Linked DNA regions of Homo sapiens. The protein of the gene in region 1 purifies or fractionates together with the protein of each later gene. This does not show direct contact. Each region holds a gene or a part of one and is shown in the gene's direction. Other genes may lie near its edges. The genes, in order: CORO2A and RMND5A.

Region 1 (3,819 bases):
ATAAAAGGCTATGAGGGGCATTTTTATGGTGATCAGAAAAGATGTTCCACTTAATCCCATAGTGAGGAAGCGAGCTATAAAAGGCTGTGAGGGCCTTGGATGAATGTGGACACTAAAACCATTCCAGCAGCTTCAGTCTCACTCACTTTTTTGAGCCCGTGTTCTGTACCAGGGTTATCATCCCTGCCCCAACAATGTTCAGTGTTACTTATTTACAATTCATTTTGTACCCACTTCTAAAATATGGTGGTATGGCTTAAGACAAGAACCACAGATATGCCAGGTTCAGTGGCTCACACCTGTAATCTCAGCACTTTGGGAGACTGAGGTGGGAGAATCACTTGAGGCCAGGAGTTGGAGACCAACCTAGGCAACATAGTGAGACCCTGTCTCTATTAAAAAATTAAAAAACACAGATATGATCAGATGATTAAAATAAAGATAAAAGTCATTGTCACCATTTATTGTGAGCCCACTGTATTCCTAACTGTCATCACACTTATCATTTCACAGTCTCCCCAGCAACCCCACAAGGTAGGATATTTTTCTGATGGAGAAGCTGAGGATCAGAGAGGTACAGCAATTTGCCTAATGTTACACAGCCTGTGGGAGGCAGAGCAAGACTTCAGACTGAGGCCTGTCTGATTCCACAGCCCATTCTCTTTCCAATGTGCTGTGACACATCTTTAAAGAGAAGCAGCCACAGATGGAGAAACTGAGGAAATACTAGAAATGATGGCTAAGAAGGGTTGCAGCAGCTAAGCTGCTAGTTTAGCTAAGAGCTACCTGGCAGCCAAGGCAAAATGGGCAACAGAATGTATTGCAAAACCTTCAGTTAGATCAAAAGAAGCAGACCAGTTCATCAGGAAAGGAAGGCAGAAAATTCAAAGAGGATTTGTGTCGGTTTCCATATAGCAGATGCTGAGGAACGTAAAGGACAGTGTCTGCCGAGGTGATTTCACCAAAGGGACAATCAGGTCCTGTGAGAATTGGCCCTGTCCCCAGGGAGTATAGGGCCTCTGGCAGGATATCAAATATCTGAAACTGTCCCCACTTTTGTGATACCTGCCTTTTCAGGACTGCTTTGAAGGCTCCCATCAAGATCTTTATAAATCTCTTGCTAGCCTCATTGCCTGCCACTGCCCCTTCCCCGATGCCCCAGGGCAGGACGTGACTGTTGGGGGACTGAAGAAGGAAGGGGCTTTCCTCCCCGAAGCTATGCCCACAGTGAATTTATGGGGTGTTCCTCCCTGCCTTCAGGGCCTGGAGGGCACGGTTGCTCCTCTAGCAGTGGGGAGTCTTCTCTGCTTCAGTGTTGCGGGTGGTACCTTCATCTTCCAAACATACCTCTTCAGAGTGTGTCTTCCTCCCGGGGTTCTATGCAGTGACAGCCCTCATCAGACCGAAGTATCTGGAGCCTGTCACTACTCTCGTGGGGTTGGCTTCCTGGTTTTAAATCCAAGATGACCAGGAAATAAATATTTGCTGAATTGAAAGCAAAGTCGTCTACCTGAAAAACCTGTATACCTCTAAGGGAAACAGTGCATACAATCAACTAGGGGCCAGAGAACCTTGCAGGACCAATAAGGAAGATCAAGTCAGCAGCATCCCAGGATCACCTTGTACTCCATTTGTATACCTCTGTGACAGGGAGCTTACTCTCTGCCATGGCAGCCCCCTCCATCTTCAGACAACACTACTCTGGAAGGAAGTCCCAGCACCTCTTCTCAGGCCCTCACCATGAAATACAGGCCCATGACCCCATCCAGCCCAGCCTCCTGACCTTCAGAGTTTCCTCTTGCAGGCCATCCAGGGTGCACCTCCAAAGCAAGAAGTTTGTCCCTGCCCTGCTGCAGAGACCTCGCCGGCTCCCTAGTGCCTGAGGATGCAGCCTAAACCCTTCATCCTGGCATTTGAGGCTCTACCCTGGGTCTTTGGGACAAGAAGAACACTGTACTTTGGGGATATCCTAGCTTAGGAGACAGGCCTGAAACCCAGCCACCTGCCCACCACCTCAGGCCAGCAGGATGACAAAGATCTCTCAAGGGCAGATTTGGAGGCCTAGACTCATCCCTGGTCAGCGCTGGCCCCTGCTCAGGCTGGAGGAGCTTGGGGAAGCCCCTGTCTGTCTGAGGACCCTCAGCTGCCCCTCCACTGCCCCTCAATGCCCATAGCCACTGAGTGGGAGGTGGCTATGGAGAGAGCTCCCTTGGTCCTTCTGCTGGTCACTGCCAGATCTGTGGCTTAGGCTGGTGACGGTGCCAAGGTGCCCTGGCTAATGCTGCCTTGGGCCCTGTCTCCCCTGCCAGATTAAGATCTGGAGCATCCCCAAGCAGCTGCTGACCAGGAACCTCACGGCCTACAGGAAGGAACTCGTGGGCCACGCGCGCAGAGTAGGCCTGGTGGAGTGGCACCCCACGGCCGCCAACATCCTCTTCAGTGCTGGCTATGACTACAAGGTGAGTCTGGGTATTCTTTCTCTGGGGCAGCCCCAACAAGTTCCCACAAACTGGAATACAATGGAAATGTATTCTGTCACAGTTCTGGAGACCAGAAATCGAAAATCAAGGTGTTGGGAGAGCCAGCTCCCTCCAGATGCCCTAGGGAAGAATCCTTCCATGCCTCTCCCAGCTTCTGGTGGCTCCAGGCATCCTTGGCTATAGCTGCGTCACTCCAGGCTCTGTTTCTGTCTTCACACGGCCTTCTCTCTGTGTACCTGTCTTCCTTATAGGAAGAGGAGAGCAACTATCATTGGATTTAGGGCCCACCTAATCCATTATGATCTCATCTTAACTAATTTCAGCAGCGAAGACCCCATTTCCAAATAAGGTCACATTCTGAGGTTCCAGGTGGACATGAGTTTTGGGGGGAACCCTGTTCAACTCATTATAGCCTGCCCGGAGTGGATGGGATGGCACTGCCCAGAAAATCGTTCCCCCGACCCTGCTCCACTGACAATCAAGCATGCAGGCAGTAGGCCCTGTAGATTGGGACCCACAGTACAGGAGACCTCAATTCTATTCCGACTCAGTCTCTGACCTGCACTATAGCCTGGGAAAGTGCCTTGACTTCTCTAGGCCTCAGTTTCCCAATCTGTACACAAATGGAATTGGTGGCACCATAGCTATGGCCTTTCAGTTCTTTCCTTTTGACACTATAGGGGTTTACAGAGACACCTCGGGACCCTCTGTGTTGGATAAAAGGGAGGTGGGGGGCCGGACATGGTGGCTCACACCTGTAATCCCAACAGTTTGAGAGGCTGAGGTGGGAGGATCACTTGAGCCCAAGGATTTGAGACCAGCCAACATAGTGAGACCCCATCTCTACAAAAAAATAGAAAAAATTAGCCAGGTGTGGGAAAATGCGTCAAGTAGTCCCAGCTACTCAGGAGGCTGAGGTGGGAGGATCACTTGAGCCCAGGAGGTTGATGCTACAGTGAGCCATGATCATGCCACTGTACTGCAGCCTGGGCAATCCTGTCTCAAAAATAAATAACTAAAATTGTTGTGGGGAGCACTGAGGGAACCTGGGCCCTCGCTCTTCCGATCCACAGCGCTTTCTCATCTGTTTGTATGGGGTGTCTGCAGAGCTGCTGCGTGTATTTGTGCTGGTTGTTCTATACCCAACTTCAGGGGGCACTAGTCACGTCCTAGTCTATAGGAATGGATTGCCCTGGACCTCTGCATGCACAGCCTGTGCAGCTAAACATACAGCCCTGTTGATCTGTGGGAGGTGCAAACTGCTGCTAATAACTGAAACCGCCTGGATTAGCTGGTTCCCTGGGGTCCTCCCAGCATGGATGTTTTGTTGCTCAGAGGC
Region 2 (3,819 bases), on another chromosome or scaffold:
TGTACATGCAGAAAGTTTACTGACATCAGCACCTGTGGGAGAATGAAAACAGCAGGATTGGGCAGAGAGGAAAGTTGGACTGTATTAGAGTGGCAACAAGGTGTCTCCCATCCGTGAGGAGCTCTGGAGCTGCTGTGGGCCCGTGGAGTTGTCCCAAATTGGGCCTATAGGGCTGGGGTTTTGTACCCTCACATGGAGCAATTGCTGGATGTGACTCTGGTCAGATGACTCTCTTCAACTGAGGACAGTCCTGAAGAGACGGACACAGCTGAGAGTTGGCTGCCAACACTTCCAGATCTGAGAAATGAGTGCTTCCACCCTGGACAGGGGTGATCTGGGGATAAGAGGAACTATGCAAAAAAAATGTTTCAGGAGCAAGCATGTCATTTGACTGATAAGCTGAGCCCATTAAATCCAGTTGTTTTGTGCAATATAAAACCTTTTTTGGCACTAATGTAAGATTATTATGAAATTCTTTATATTTTACTTTTTGAAACAGGGTCTCATTCTGTTGCCCAGGTTGGAGTGCAGTGGCACGATCGTGGCTCACTGCAGCCTCAACCTCCTGGCATCCTCCCACCTCAGCCTGCTCAGTAGCTGGGACTCTAGGCACATGCTACCATACCTGGCTAATGGCTAATTTTTATATCTTTTGTAGAGACGGGGGTCTCACTGTGTTTCCCAGGCTGGTCTCAAACTCTCAAACTTAGGTAATCCTCCCACCTTGGCCTCCCAAAGTGCTGCAATTACAGGAGTGAGCCACCACCATCTGCTGTTATTAAATTCTCTAAAAACCTTATTCTCAATTCTGTACTTCTTTCCTGTGGATTGAAAATGGTGTGTAAATCAGCACCATCTGCAGACCACATTTTGAGTATCATTGTTCTAATTAGCGTATACCTTGGAGCACATTTTGTAAGAAAAATAAGTCTGGTGGTATATGGTCTGTAAGGAAGGGAATAGGAAAGGAAGTTATGTCTTGTATATTGCTGAGTGAAGAATTTTGTGCAAGAACATCTCTTTTTCCTTCAAACTCAGATGCTAAAACTACTGTATTTGGAAGAGTGTAGTAGTTCTTAATTCCTGCTCTTCATTTGAATTAATTGGTTCTCCAAAGCTGCTTTCTTTTTTAAAATGCATGTTTTAAAACTTTATTTTTCTATTTTCTGAGGAAGTAAGCTAAAGTTAAATTACCCTAGCAGATGAGTTTTTTTTTTTTAACGTTTGCGTTCTTTAACTGCATTTACCCCCATATTGGTGAGGTTTATTTAGAAAATTTAGAGTTTTATTTTTTGTTTTGTTTTTTAACTGGGATTGGTTTTCAGTAACTTCAGGAAATATACCAGTGGGCCTGGGGAAGAAGGGGAGGGAAAACAAGTTATTTCTCTTCTAGTGGAAATGGCTGGATTTACTTTTAGCAGAACAGAAAGCTCTCACCCTGTCCAGTGGCCAGGGTCTGCAGCACATAGAGTCTGGAGAAATTGATGTCTCCTTGGACCAAGCGGCCTGACCCCTGGCCTGGCACTGACGTTTCCTCTTCTGCTCTCCCAGTTTCTCAGCAGGTTGTGTGGCGCTGCCAGCTTTAATTAACATCAAAGCCGTGATTGAACAGAGGCAGTGTACTGGAGTTTGGAACCAGAAAGATGAATTACCTGTGAGTTCCATTTTCTATTGGCTATTTACTTTTACTGCCATTAGAAGAATATGGCATCTTTAAATGTTCATCTTACCTTTTAACCAGGAAACATTGTAGCCATTTGACAGGAGTTCTTTTATGGATATATAAAAGATTAAACAATACAAATGAAGAGCCTAGTACATTTTGGGGACCCTGGAGGAGGAGTATTATAATTTTGACTTGAAGTGCCTTTGAAAGCTGGTGAAGGGAAACATCAGAAGTGGGGAGGGCTGTACATACAGTAGCAGGCAGTGTGTTCTGCAGTGCAGTTCACAGACCACTCCTGTGATTGTTTTTCTAATATAAACGCAAATTTAATTGGTTTTACTTTTGTCTTAACTATTGCTGTCGATAAGATCACGAGTTTGTGCTGGTTACATTTGCCAATAGAATAAGTATAGAGCTCTTAAAGGTCGTAACACCTGCAGTCATCAGTGGGTCTCTAGTACTGTATTTCTACTGCTCTCATGGAAAGGACCATGGTTTTAAACATCAGCACGATCACTTGCCAACTCTAGAACTTCTCTAAGCAGTAGTGTATTCATCTCTAAGACAAGCACCAGCTTTCTCTTTATGGGGCTGCTGAAGGCTAGAGATAACATAAGCATGCTTAGAATAAGACGGGATACATGGTAGGCACTCAAATTGTGGCTGCCATGGTGCAGTTATGATGTGAAGTGGCGAAGGTCATTGTATGTATGTTTCCACCAGGTCTCTGACAGGCACTGAGGCTCTGGCCTGGAATTGTCGTTCCTGTCATGATTGTGTCACAGACCCTGAAAAGCTAACATACGCATTTGTTTTTTTGCCCGTTTTATACCACACCTGTACACGGGTTTATTTGCAGTTACCTTGTTCTTCCAGCAGGTAACCCTGTCAGTTGGTTGCCCCAGCTTCTCCTCAAAGATCTTTTCTGATTAAAGGCACAGGTGCAGTCCTGGTCCTGAGTGTGGTCAGGACACAAGTAGCACTCCTGCTCTACTGCCGCTAACTTGAACAAGTGAAAAGAACTTGAGCCTTCACTTGTTTTGTGGAGGCAGGTGCCTGGCATCTGGCAGTTTCCCATTTATGTTGTAAGCATCTCTGACATGCACTAAGAGCAGACTGAAATCTGAATTCACCTAAAGACTGTGTGTCAAGCCAGTAAAGCCATTAGAGGTGGTGATCAGGTCATTGTTTGTCAGACTTGTTTTTACACTTTGTCAGCTTTCTTGAAAATAATCTTGAAGGCTAATTTAACACTTTGAATCACTAAGACTGTCCATCTGAGTTAGAAGAGTGCTATAGAAAGTTACATTCAGGTGAATAGATCTGATCAATGTTCTTTGCTGCACAGTGTATATTACCATGTGGATGGTTTTGTGAAATATGACTTCAGCTTTTTTACTTTTTTTTTTTTTTTTAACAGATTGAAGTGGACCTTGGTAAAAAGTGCTGGTATCACTCTATATTTGCCTGCCCCATTCTTCGTCAGCAAACAACAGATAACAATCCACCCATGAAATTGGTCTGTGGTCATATTATATCAAGAGATGCCCTGAATAAAATGTTTAATGGTAGCAAGTAAGTGTCTGACTTTTAAAAAATGTTAGCAAATAAATTTTGTTTTGGAACTTGGTAGGAGGATAAGAAGTGATGAGGATTAAAAAAATGTAGCTAGATTTAGAACTAAATAAATTTCTTAACTATTCATTTGGCAAAGTTGGTGGTATCTGATTTGAGTATTTTTAATGTGTCTATGGATTTGGTGATTAGATTTATAAGCATGTCTTTAACTTAACTTTTGGGGTAGGTGATAGATTTTCCCCTTTTTTATACAAATGGTCGCATACTAAAAAATGTTCTGTACTTTGCTGTTTTCACTTAGTGATGTATTTTGGAGATCTTTTTCTGTGCTGCAGAAACAGCCCTCATTATTTTTTTGTTAAAGCTGCAGTATATTCTACTGTATAGAAATATGATTGGGTAGCCAGTTCCCTATTGATGAACATTTGTTTCTCTAAACAGTGCTAAGTGAAGGCCAGGTGTGGTGGCTTATGCCTGTAATCCCAGCACTGTGGGAGGCCGAGGCAGGCGGATCACGAGGTCAGGAGATTGAGACCATCCTGGCTAACACGGTGAAATCCCATCTCTACTAAAAA

The links.
Region 2: the proteins of CORO2A (region 1) and RMND5A purify together in Homo sapiens (affinity purification with mass spectrometry; one large-scale study listed by BioGRID and IntAct). This does not show direct contact.

Annotation. Positions count from the first base shown.
Region 1 is NC_000009.12:98,133,446-98,137,264, reverse strand, and holds part of CORO2A (coronin-2A), read left to right. Parts: intron 1-2,309; coding exon 2,310-2,459; intron 2,460-3,819.
Region 2 is NC_000002.12:86,768,472-86,772,290, forward strand, and holds part of RMND5A (E3 ubiquitin-protein transferase RMND5A), read left to right. Parts: intron 1-1,551; coding exon 1,552-1,654; intron 1,655-3,086; coding exon 3,087-3,241; intron 3,242-3,819.